Linked DNA regions of Homo sapiens: region 2 is linked to region 1. Evidence: fine-mapped expression QTL. A gene starts in region 1. The other region holds a variant in brackets. All regions are shown on one strand. Distances are from middle to middle. Region 1 holds the start of SEPTIN4 (septin 4). Region 2 overlaps SEPTIN4 (septin 4).

Region 1 (4,388 bases):
GGAGGGAAAAGCACAGACCTTTTAGCCACCAGATGACACGATTGTACATTTCCTCAGAGACATCTGAAAGTAACAGAGAGATGGTTGCTTTTCTTCTCTCTGTGGGATGCACATCCCACTCTCCACTACTTGCAGCTCCCTTTCTAGCTCCACATTTCTCCACTCAAAGGTGCCCTCAGCCCTTGGTCCTCTCCAAGAAGCTCCTCCAGCCTAGGACTATATATCGTATTCCCACTCTCCCTTTCTCTTTTTTACACCCTCTCTCTGTGCCACTGTGAATGCCTTTCCCCTCCTGGAATCCCAGCTCATCTGCATCCCACCCTCTCCACTTTGTAGCCAGAGTATTTACCTGAGGCCCTTATTCTATTTAACAGCCCTTGCCAGCCCTCACCCCAGCTCAGTTCTTCATCCCCACTCAGGAAGCAGCTTTCAACCCTGCAAGCCCCTCTCTACTACCTTCAATTAAAAAGGTAAGCAGTGTTGCCTGGAGGAGTCAATGCCTGTCGCCCGGCCCAAGCATCCATCATCAATGTCATTAGCTTGGAGCACAGAGAAGCTGGCAGGGAAGGAATGGAGCAATAGGCTCAAGGATAGGACTAGCTTTGGCACTGGCAGGAGAGCAGCCCTTAGGCCCAGAATGAAGAGGTGGTCTTTCCTGCCCACCCCAACATCCCATCTCACTAAATTGGGGCTGCACCTGGGCAGTCTGCTTCTTCACATACCCAGGAAGAAAGCAGTAAACCTTTGAATGGGTTGTTTGCAGGTGTGCTTGGGGGTCTGTGGCACTTCACTCAGTGGTGCCCAACTTGGAAACTCCTTTGGTGGTGATGGTGGTGATAGGCTTGCCTTCTCTCTCTGGAACTTCAGATCCTCACAGAAAGGGCTAGAGTCTATTTTAAAACCGGACAATAAAAGATCTAGGGAAGGAGAGCACTTAGGCTCAAAATCCGGTGTTGTCAGCTGGCTTTGGGGTGTTTCAACTTCAGGATTCAGCAAGGGCCACCATGAGGAGTCAGGTCCGTACCTAGGTAAGGACCGAGGAGGCAAGGGCCTAGGGGTCAGTTCCAGTTCTGCATGGATGGAGGGCTTTTGCGAGAGTTCTGGATACCTGGGTGTAGGTCCTTGGGACATGTAAGTAATTTCTGGGGGTTTTTGGGTTTGCTGTTTATAGATGGGCTCTGGAGTAACAAACATGGATGACTTGTGGGAGCCCTCAGACACTGATGGAACTGTCACATGGTGAGTTGGCTCTACTGACTGTACCCCTGGGGAGATGGTGACCCTGCGGCCAACCTCGCTGTTTCCTCGGATTGGGGTCCTCACGTTGGACTCCACCTGTGATGATACTAAGACCTTTGCGGAGGGCTTGGTTTCAGGATAGGCAGAATACTTATGAAGAGACTCAGGGTCTACCCGTGCAGAAACTCGGTGTACACCATCAGAATCTTTAAGGACAGAGAGTTTGAGCAATGAGTCCAAGTTCATATTCCTATACAAGGCCTTGGGTTTTGAAGGAATTGGACCGTAAGGACCTGTTTCTGATTCTTCTACAGGGACCCTTCTCTGGGCTGTCTGATAGTCTGCAGAGACACAGCTGCTTCCGTGCTCTAGGAGAGAGGGACTCCTTGGAGATCTGATCTCACTAGTAGTCGTAATTCTTTGGATGGGCTCAGTTTGTACTGCTTCATCCTTTGGGTAAGACAAAATCCTACGGGGAACTCTGACTCCTTGGGGGTTCTGGACCTTGGATGGTGGGTCATCTTCTAAGATTTGTGATTGTAAGTTATTCTTCTGGTCTTGAAAACTCAACTGATGAGTAGATTTGGCATCTGGGATTGATGAAGCATGATGGCCGACCTCGCGCCCTGACTTGCTCTCACTGCCTCTTCGTGCTGCTTCCTCTCTGGGTGGACTAACTTTCCATTGTCTGCTTGAAGCATGGGAAGCCAGTGTCTGAGTCTTCTGGCTCTTTAGATGGGGAGAGGAATGGCGGGATGATTCTGTTCTTGGTCCAGTCTCGGGTCCCCGAGGAGTGGGTACTGCATAGTGTCCAGGTCCTGACTGGAGGGAGACAGATCGAGGGTAGTCTGATGCTGAATGGGGAGTGGTGGGATGTGCAGCTTCTGATCTTCGGTGGGAAGGGTTCAGGGAGACTGCAGCACTTCGATGGCTTGAGGCAAGAACGTACCCATGTCCCTGCTGAGGGGATGTGTTAGTAGTAACCTCAGACCCTCTCTGTGCTGAAACCGCTACCTTGGCCCCAGGTTTATTTGTCTTGACCATCTGATAGATTGTGCCCTTCTGAGTAGATCCCGTATTTTACTGGCTGGCTTGTATTCAGGATCCTAATGATGCCTGAATATTTACCCTGTTTTAAAGCTGCTGTTTCTTGGGCTCCCACAAAAGTGGCTGTTGTTCTAAGAGTGTCTCAAATAATCCCCTTAGCTACCTCTCTGTCTGGTGATGTCATAAAGGAAGGAGCTTCCTTCCTATTAAACATCCTAGTGTACAGCCACAATTCTTCACAGAATCCCAAAGAAGTACCTGAAAGGAATCTGTGGATTTGTCTTTGGAGTTATATCACCAAGCCTTTGGCAAGTTTTTAACAAAACTGGGATTTCCTTGTACATAGAGAAGGCTCCAGACCCTCCTTTACTCTCCCGAGATTCTAGAAATTCTCAGGACTCATCCAGAGAAGGAATCAGCCAGAAGATCCTATGAAGACAAGATCAAACCAAACACGCTGTGTTCGCCCCAGTTTTAATAAGGTACGAAGTACAAAGTTGCCCCAATTTTGTTTGAAACTGTACTGTATACAAGTTAAAAAAAAAAAAAAAAAGAGAGCTTCAGCTTTTTCCAGGTCTCATGGATTGTTTCATTGCTCCTGGGGTAAAAATCCAGGTTGCTCAAATAATAAAATTCTCACATTCTTGCTCCAGGAGAGTTTAGTGTTTTATTAATAAAAGGGATTTGCCATGTGCGGTGGCTCACGCCTGTAATCCCAGCACTTTGGGAGACCGAGGCGGGTGGATTGCCTGAGGTCAGGAGTTTGAGGCCAGCATGGCCAGCATGATAAAACCCCGTCTTTACTAAAAATACAAAAAAATTAGCCAGGCATAGTGGCAGGCACCTATAATCCCAGCTACTCAGGAGGCTGAGGCAGGAGAATCGCTTGAACCCGGGAGTTGGAGGTTGCAGTGAGCTGAGATTGTGCCACTTTACTCCAGCCTGGGTGACAAGAGCAAAACTCCATCTCAAAAAATATATATAAATAAAAACAAAATAAAAGGGATTTGGGCTGGGTGCAGTGGCTCACACCTGTAATCCCAGCACTTTGGGAGGCTGAGGCGGGTGGATCACCTGAGGTCAGGAGTTTGAGACCAGCCTGGCCAACATGGTGAAACCCCATCTCTACTAAAAATACAAATATTAGCCAGGCGTGGTGGTGCGTGCCTGTAATCCCAGCTACCCGTGAGGCTGAGGCACGAGAATCGCTGGAACCTGGGAGGCGGAGGCTGCAGTGAGCTGAGATCGTGCCACTGCACTCCAGGCTGGGTGACAGAGCAAGACTCCATCTCAAAAAAAAAAAAAAAAAAGAAAGAAAGAAAGAAAGAAGGAATTTGGAGTTAATCATTGGTTTCCATCATAAATGACTACAGGTGTACCTAGGAGAAATTACCTGCCTTCCCTGGGACTTGGTTTCTTCACCTGGAAACCACTGCCTGGTACATGGGTGTCACACAACAAATGTTAATGTCCTTTCTCATGATCCTGTCAGCTATCCAATCAGCCGGACTCCGGTTCTCTCTTGAAAAGTGACTTTCCAATTTGGATGACCATTTTGGAGGAGACTCTGTCACCTTTCTCTCCCTTTCACATGCTCTTTCTCTCATTCTCTCTTTTAGACATAGACTCTACCATATCCAAAATTCTATTATGAACTCTGAAGGGTCATTGAGATTATAGGATGGTCAGCTTCATTTTTCTTTTTTTTTTTTTATTTGAGATGGAGTTTCAAATAAACTGTGCCCAGGCTGTTGCCCAGGCTGCAGTGCAGTGGCGTGATCTTGGCTCACTGCAACCTCTGCCTCCCGGGTTCAAGTGATTCTCCTGCCTCAGCCTCCCGAGTAGCTGGGATTACAGGCGCATACCACCATGCCTAGCTGATTTTCTTTTTTTTAGTAGAGATGGGGTTTCACCATGTTAGTTAGGCTCGTGTCAAACTCCTGACCTCAGATAATCTACCCACCTCGGCTTCCTAAAGTGCTGGGATTACAGGTGTGAGCCACCGTGCCCAGCCAGTTTTAAGTATTTCTAAACCCTTTCTATTCCCCAAAATGAAAGCAGCTTTGGCTAGGTGTGGTGGCCCAGCCTGTAATCCCAACACT
Region 2 (4,388 bases), 21 kb before region 1:
CGAGTCAGTTTGCTAAAGGGAGAAAAGGGTTGATAAGGCGAGGAGGACCCCAGCACCCGCTTAGATTGAGCCCAGGGCCTATAGAAGAACAAAAGTAGGGCTTGGTCTCACCCAAGGCTAGGCTTGGGATCTCCCCCTGCCAGCTTTGTCCTGGCTTCTGGTCATACTTGCGATTCCGTTCCTTCACCACCAGGCGGGTCATGCTCTGGATGCACTGTGCCCGGTAGTTCTCATAATGTGTCTCCCGTGTCACATCCTTCAGGTCCTGCATGTGGGTACGTACCAGCATTGTCCTCAGCTTCACAAAGTCGCAGTGCCCTGGGTTTTCCACTGCATAGCAAGGCTAGGGGTCAGCCAGAGGCATAGGTAGGGGAGAGCCACTGAGGGCAAGGAGATACCCTGGTCACAGGCTCAGTGCTTTACCTTCCACGATGCCCCAGGGGTAGAGTCGACCCCGAACTCGCCGCCCTCTGGCCTCTACTACAGTGTTGCTGCCAATTACTGCAAATGGGATGCTTTCCTGGAAGAGGTTAGGGGTGCCTGTCAGCACCCTCTGTTCTCACCTCTTTCTTTCCACCTGTATCGTCATCTTCTCTGCTTCATTCTAGGAAGCCAGGGTCCTTTCCCACCCTGATAGCCTGAATATAGAATTCTACTCCCTTTTTCTACCCGGAAGAAATAAGATAGGAATGGGATGCCCTAGAGTGGCCCCACCTTTAGGGCTTGGTCCTGCAATTTGAAGTCCTCATCCTCATCAGAGTCACAGTCTGGGAATTGATAGATCTTGATTCCAAAATGCTCAATCTCCTCCCGGATCTGACAAACAGATGAGGGGCCCACAGTTCTGGGGACCACATCCTTTCTAGAAGCCCACCTGATCCCCTCCCACCACCAGCTTCCCTCACTTTGCGTTTCTTGTGGTCCACTTCGGGAGGTGTCAGTGTGTCTGCCTTAGCCAGGATAGGCACGATGTTGACCCGCTGATGCAGGGCCTTCATGAATTCAACATCCAATGGCCGGAGCCTGGGGAACAGGAACCTGTGACCACCTGCTAGTGGCAGCCCTGCCCCTGGTGCTCTTGGCCTGTTCCCTTGACAGCACCCGGTGGTGCCAGGAGCCTCAGGCTTGGACCATACCCATGGCCGAAGGGTGAGATGAAGTACAGGCAGCAGTGCACCCTGTTGTCTTGGATGTTCTTTCGGTTCAGGCCACTCTCGTCTCGGAAATACTGCTCAAACTGCTGATCAATGTATTCTGCCACAGGCTTCCAGCTGGGGCAGGGACAGACAAGCAGAGAAACTGTGAGAGTGGGAGCCACCTAGTGAGCTCTGGGACTACAGAGAAGTAGCCCACTCCCTGAGCAGTGTTTTTAAGACACTGTTATTCCCTGGCTTGCTTTACTAAATCTTTAGAGAAATTCCTGAATGGGGTGGGGTGTATCTCACATGTCCTGATACAAAATTAGACTGAGTACTCAGGCAAGTTTAATAAATACTAGCTTGATGAGAGGGAAAGGGCCCAGGTGATCAAACAAAGCAGTAAGAATAGGCTGGGCACGGTGGCTTACCCCTGTAATCCCAACACTTTGGGAGGCCGAGGCGGGTGGATCACTTAAGGTCAGGAGTTTGAGACCACCCTGACCAACATGGTGAAACCCTGTCTCCACTAAAAATACAAAAATTAGCTGGGCGTGGTGGTGTGCACCTGAGTAGTCCCAGCTACTCAGGAGTCCGAGGCAGGAGAATCACTTGAACCCAGGAGGCAGAGGTTGCAGTGAGCCAAGATCATACCACTCCAGCCTGGGTGATGGAGCCAGACTGTCACAAAAAAAAAAAAAAAAAGAAGAAGAAGAAGAAAAAAAGAATAGCAAGGTGGCTGCAGGCAAATACCAACTGGAAGCCAGGGAAACCCTAAGTCAGGTTTCCAGTGTAACCTCAGAGCCTCTTTGCTCATGTGTTTCTACCCTTTCCTCTACCTCTCCAAACCCACTCCATCCTTCAAGGCCCTAAGAACCATCTCTTCCACGAAGTCTCCTTTGACTATACCAATACACACTGCTCTCCCCTTCTCTTCACTACAAAGCAAAACAAATAAATAAATAAATTTCCCCAAGAACCTCAATTTTCATATCCTTTGCTCTTCTATTATCTTGTTTAATCCTCACTGCCCTGACAGGTGGACATTATGCATTATGATCATCATCACTCTCATTTCATACATGAAGAAACTAAATCCAGAGCAGCTAACAGATTTGCTCCAGGCCAGGTGTGGTAGTTCACGCCTGTAATCCTAGCACTT[T/C]AGGAGGCCAAGGTAGGCTGATCACTTGAGCCCAGGAGTTCAAGACCAGACTGGGCAACATAGCGAGACCCCCATCTCTACAAAAAATACAAAAAAGTTAGCTTGGTGTGGTGGCATACACCTGTAGTACCAGCTACTTGGGAGGTTGAGGTGGGAAGATAACCTGAGCCCGGGGAGCCCCGGGAGGTGGTTGATCAGGCCACTGCACTCTAGCCTGGGCAACAGAGTGAGAACCAGTCTCAAAAAAAAAAAAAAAAGAAAGGAGGAAGGAGAGGGAAAGGAAAAGGACTTTCTGTAGGTCATTTAGCTAGTAAATTCTCTACCCACCTGAACCCCTACAGCTCAGTGCACTTGCCACTACACATTGCCTGACCCATTTACTAATTTAAGTTGCTATCTGATTGAAACATGTTAGAGAACTGCCCCCACCTCCCCTGCTTCCCTGTTGCCACTTGACTATAAGCCTCTCAGGGATAGGAATCATTCATGCTTGTTCTGAATCCCTTAAAATGTCCACCACAGGCTGGACATCTAGTATGTGCTCACATTCTAGCTGATTTGATGCTCTGCCGTTGCCATGTTGAAATTCTTAAAAATTTTGAACACGGGGCCCTACATTTTCATTTGCACTGGGCCCAACAAATTATGTTGCTGGTCCTGCAATTACCATTGTTAAAATTCCTGAGTATGCTGTAAATAGCCCTTTACACTTTTCAGTGCGCATGCATCATGTTGGGTGATGTTCAAATCAATTGGAGAGGTGGTAAGGGCTGGTATATTTTAATTAAATAAGTGTCTGACAAAATGAATATATATGGAGGTACACTTTAAACTGTGAGGTGCCTGGCAAATGAAATTATTAGTATTATGGAAGGTAAGAGACAGTAGGTAAATTGATTGAAGGAGATCATTTGCTCAAGATCATGAAGTTACTAAATGCCAATCAAGATTTGAACTCTCTGTCTAGGGCTCTTAGCACTGCCTGCCTAACTTCTTCATCAAAGCTACCACCTTTTCTCCTGTCAATCTCATCCATTTCCCTCTTCATCTACTCACTTAGGTCTGACCATTACCTAAGCTGGAGGTAACGGTCAGACCTACTGACCATTAGCTGGAGGGGGGTCCCTCCAGTGCCTGAAAAATAAAAAAGCCCGAATGATAGGGGGTTGTGGTAAATCCAGCTTTTCTTTCGGCAGGTAGCCTAGAGGGTGCCTGGAGTTTAAACAAAGTTCCACCATTTTTCCCTTTTGCCTATTCTTCCTCACCTTTACCCTCCCTCCATACATGCCCAGCCCTTCAACAAGATTGTGTGCGGCACCTAAAATGTTGCTAGTGAAAGGAAAAAGGGTGACAGTTTATTCGGCATCTACTATGTAATCAACTCTGTGCTACATGTTTTCACACTTCACATGTGTTTGTTTTTAAGGCTCTTCTTTCTTATCTTTTTTTTTTTTTTTTTGGAAGGTTTCGCTTTGTCTTCTAGGCTATAGTGCAGTAGTGCAATCATGGCTCACTGCAGCCTCAACCTCCTGAGCTCAAGTGATTCTCCTGCCTCACCCTCCCCAGTAGCTGAGACTACAGGCCTATGCCACCATGCCCAGCTAATTTTTAAAACTTTTTGTAGAGATGGGATCTTACTATGTTGCCCAGGCTGGCCTTGAACTCCTGGCCTCAAGTGATACTTCCGCCTCAGCCTCTTCTTTCTTATGTCCCTACCCCATTATAGAATCATAGGGCAGAATTGGAAGGAACATTAAAAATCATCTATTCCAATCCTTTCCCTCTTACTTTATAAAGGAGGAGATGGCTGTCCAGTAAGGGAAGTCACATGCTCAAGGTCATAGACCGCTTCCTCCTGATAAGTATGGATATATCTGGGCCTACGTGTGTACCTGTGTATGGAGAAGGGTGGCTCAGGGGCAGCTGGGATTGTGCTTACTCAGACATACCACTCTGTGTTGTTGACTGCATCCCCAAAACCTGGTGTGTCCACAATGGTGAGCCGCAGCCTCACACCCTTCTCTTCTATGTCCACTGCATGCTTAGTGATCTCCACAGTTTGCATGATCCTCTCTGGAGAAAGGGGAAAC

What was found. PIP is the estimated chance that this variant, and not a neighbour inherited with it, causes the effect. A credible set is the group of variants that fine-mapping cannot tell apart.
Region 2: its variant is the best candidate, but not a certain one, in a credible set for the expression of SEPTIN4 in whole blood (TOPMed, PIP 0.50).

Annotation. Positions count from the first base shown.
Region 1 is chr17:58,541,904-58,546,291 of GRCh38, forward strand. It overlaps SEPTIN4 (septin 4), which reads right to left and starts at 2,425. Exons shown (of 14, transcript NM_001368771.2): 1 at 723-2,425; 2 at 19-63. The coding sequence starts at 2,283. SEPTIN4-AS1 (SEPTIN4 antisense RNA 1) reads left to right here. Exons shown (of 5, transcript NR_110810.1): 3 at 1,554-1,695; 4 at 2,633-2,768.
Region 2 is chr17:58,520,831-58,525,218 of GRCh38, forward strand. SEPTIN4 (septin 4) reads right to left here. Exons shown (of 14, transcript NM_001368771.2): 7 at 4,248-4,371; 8 at 1,137-1,271; 9 at 906-1,023; 10 at 715-816; 11 at 424-520; 12 at 168-330; 13 at 1-12. All of the region lies in intron 1 of SEPTIN4-AS1 (SEPTIN4 antisense RNA 1), which reads left to right. Among named protein-coding and RNA genes, the nearest start is that of SEPTIN4-AS1, 3.2 kb to the left of the region's middle. The variant T/C (reference allele first, on the strand shown) is at 2,299.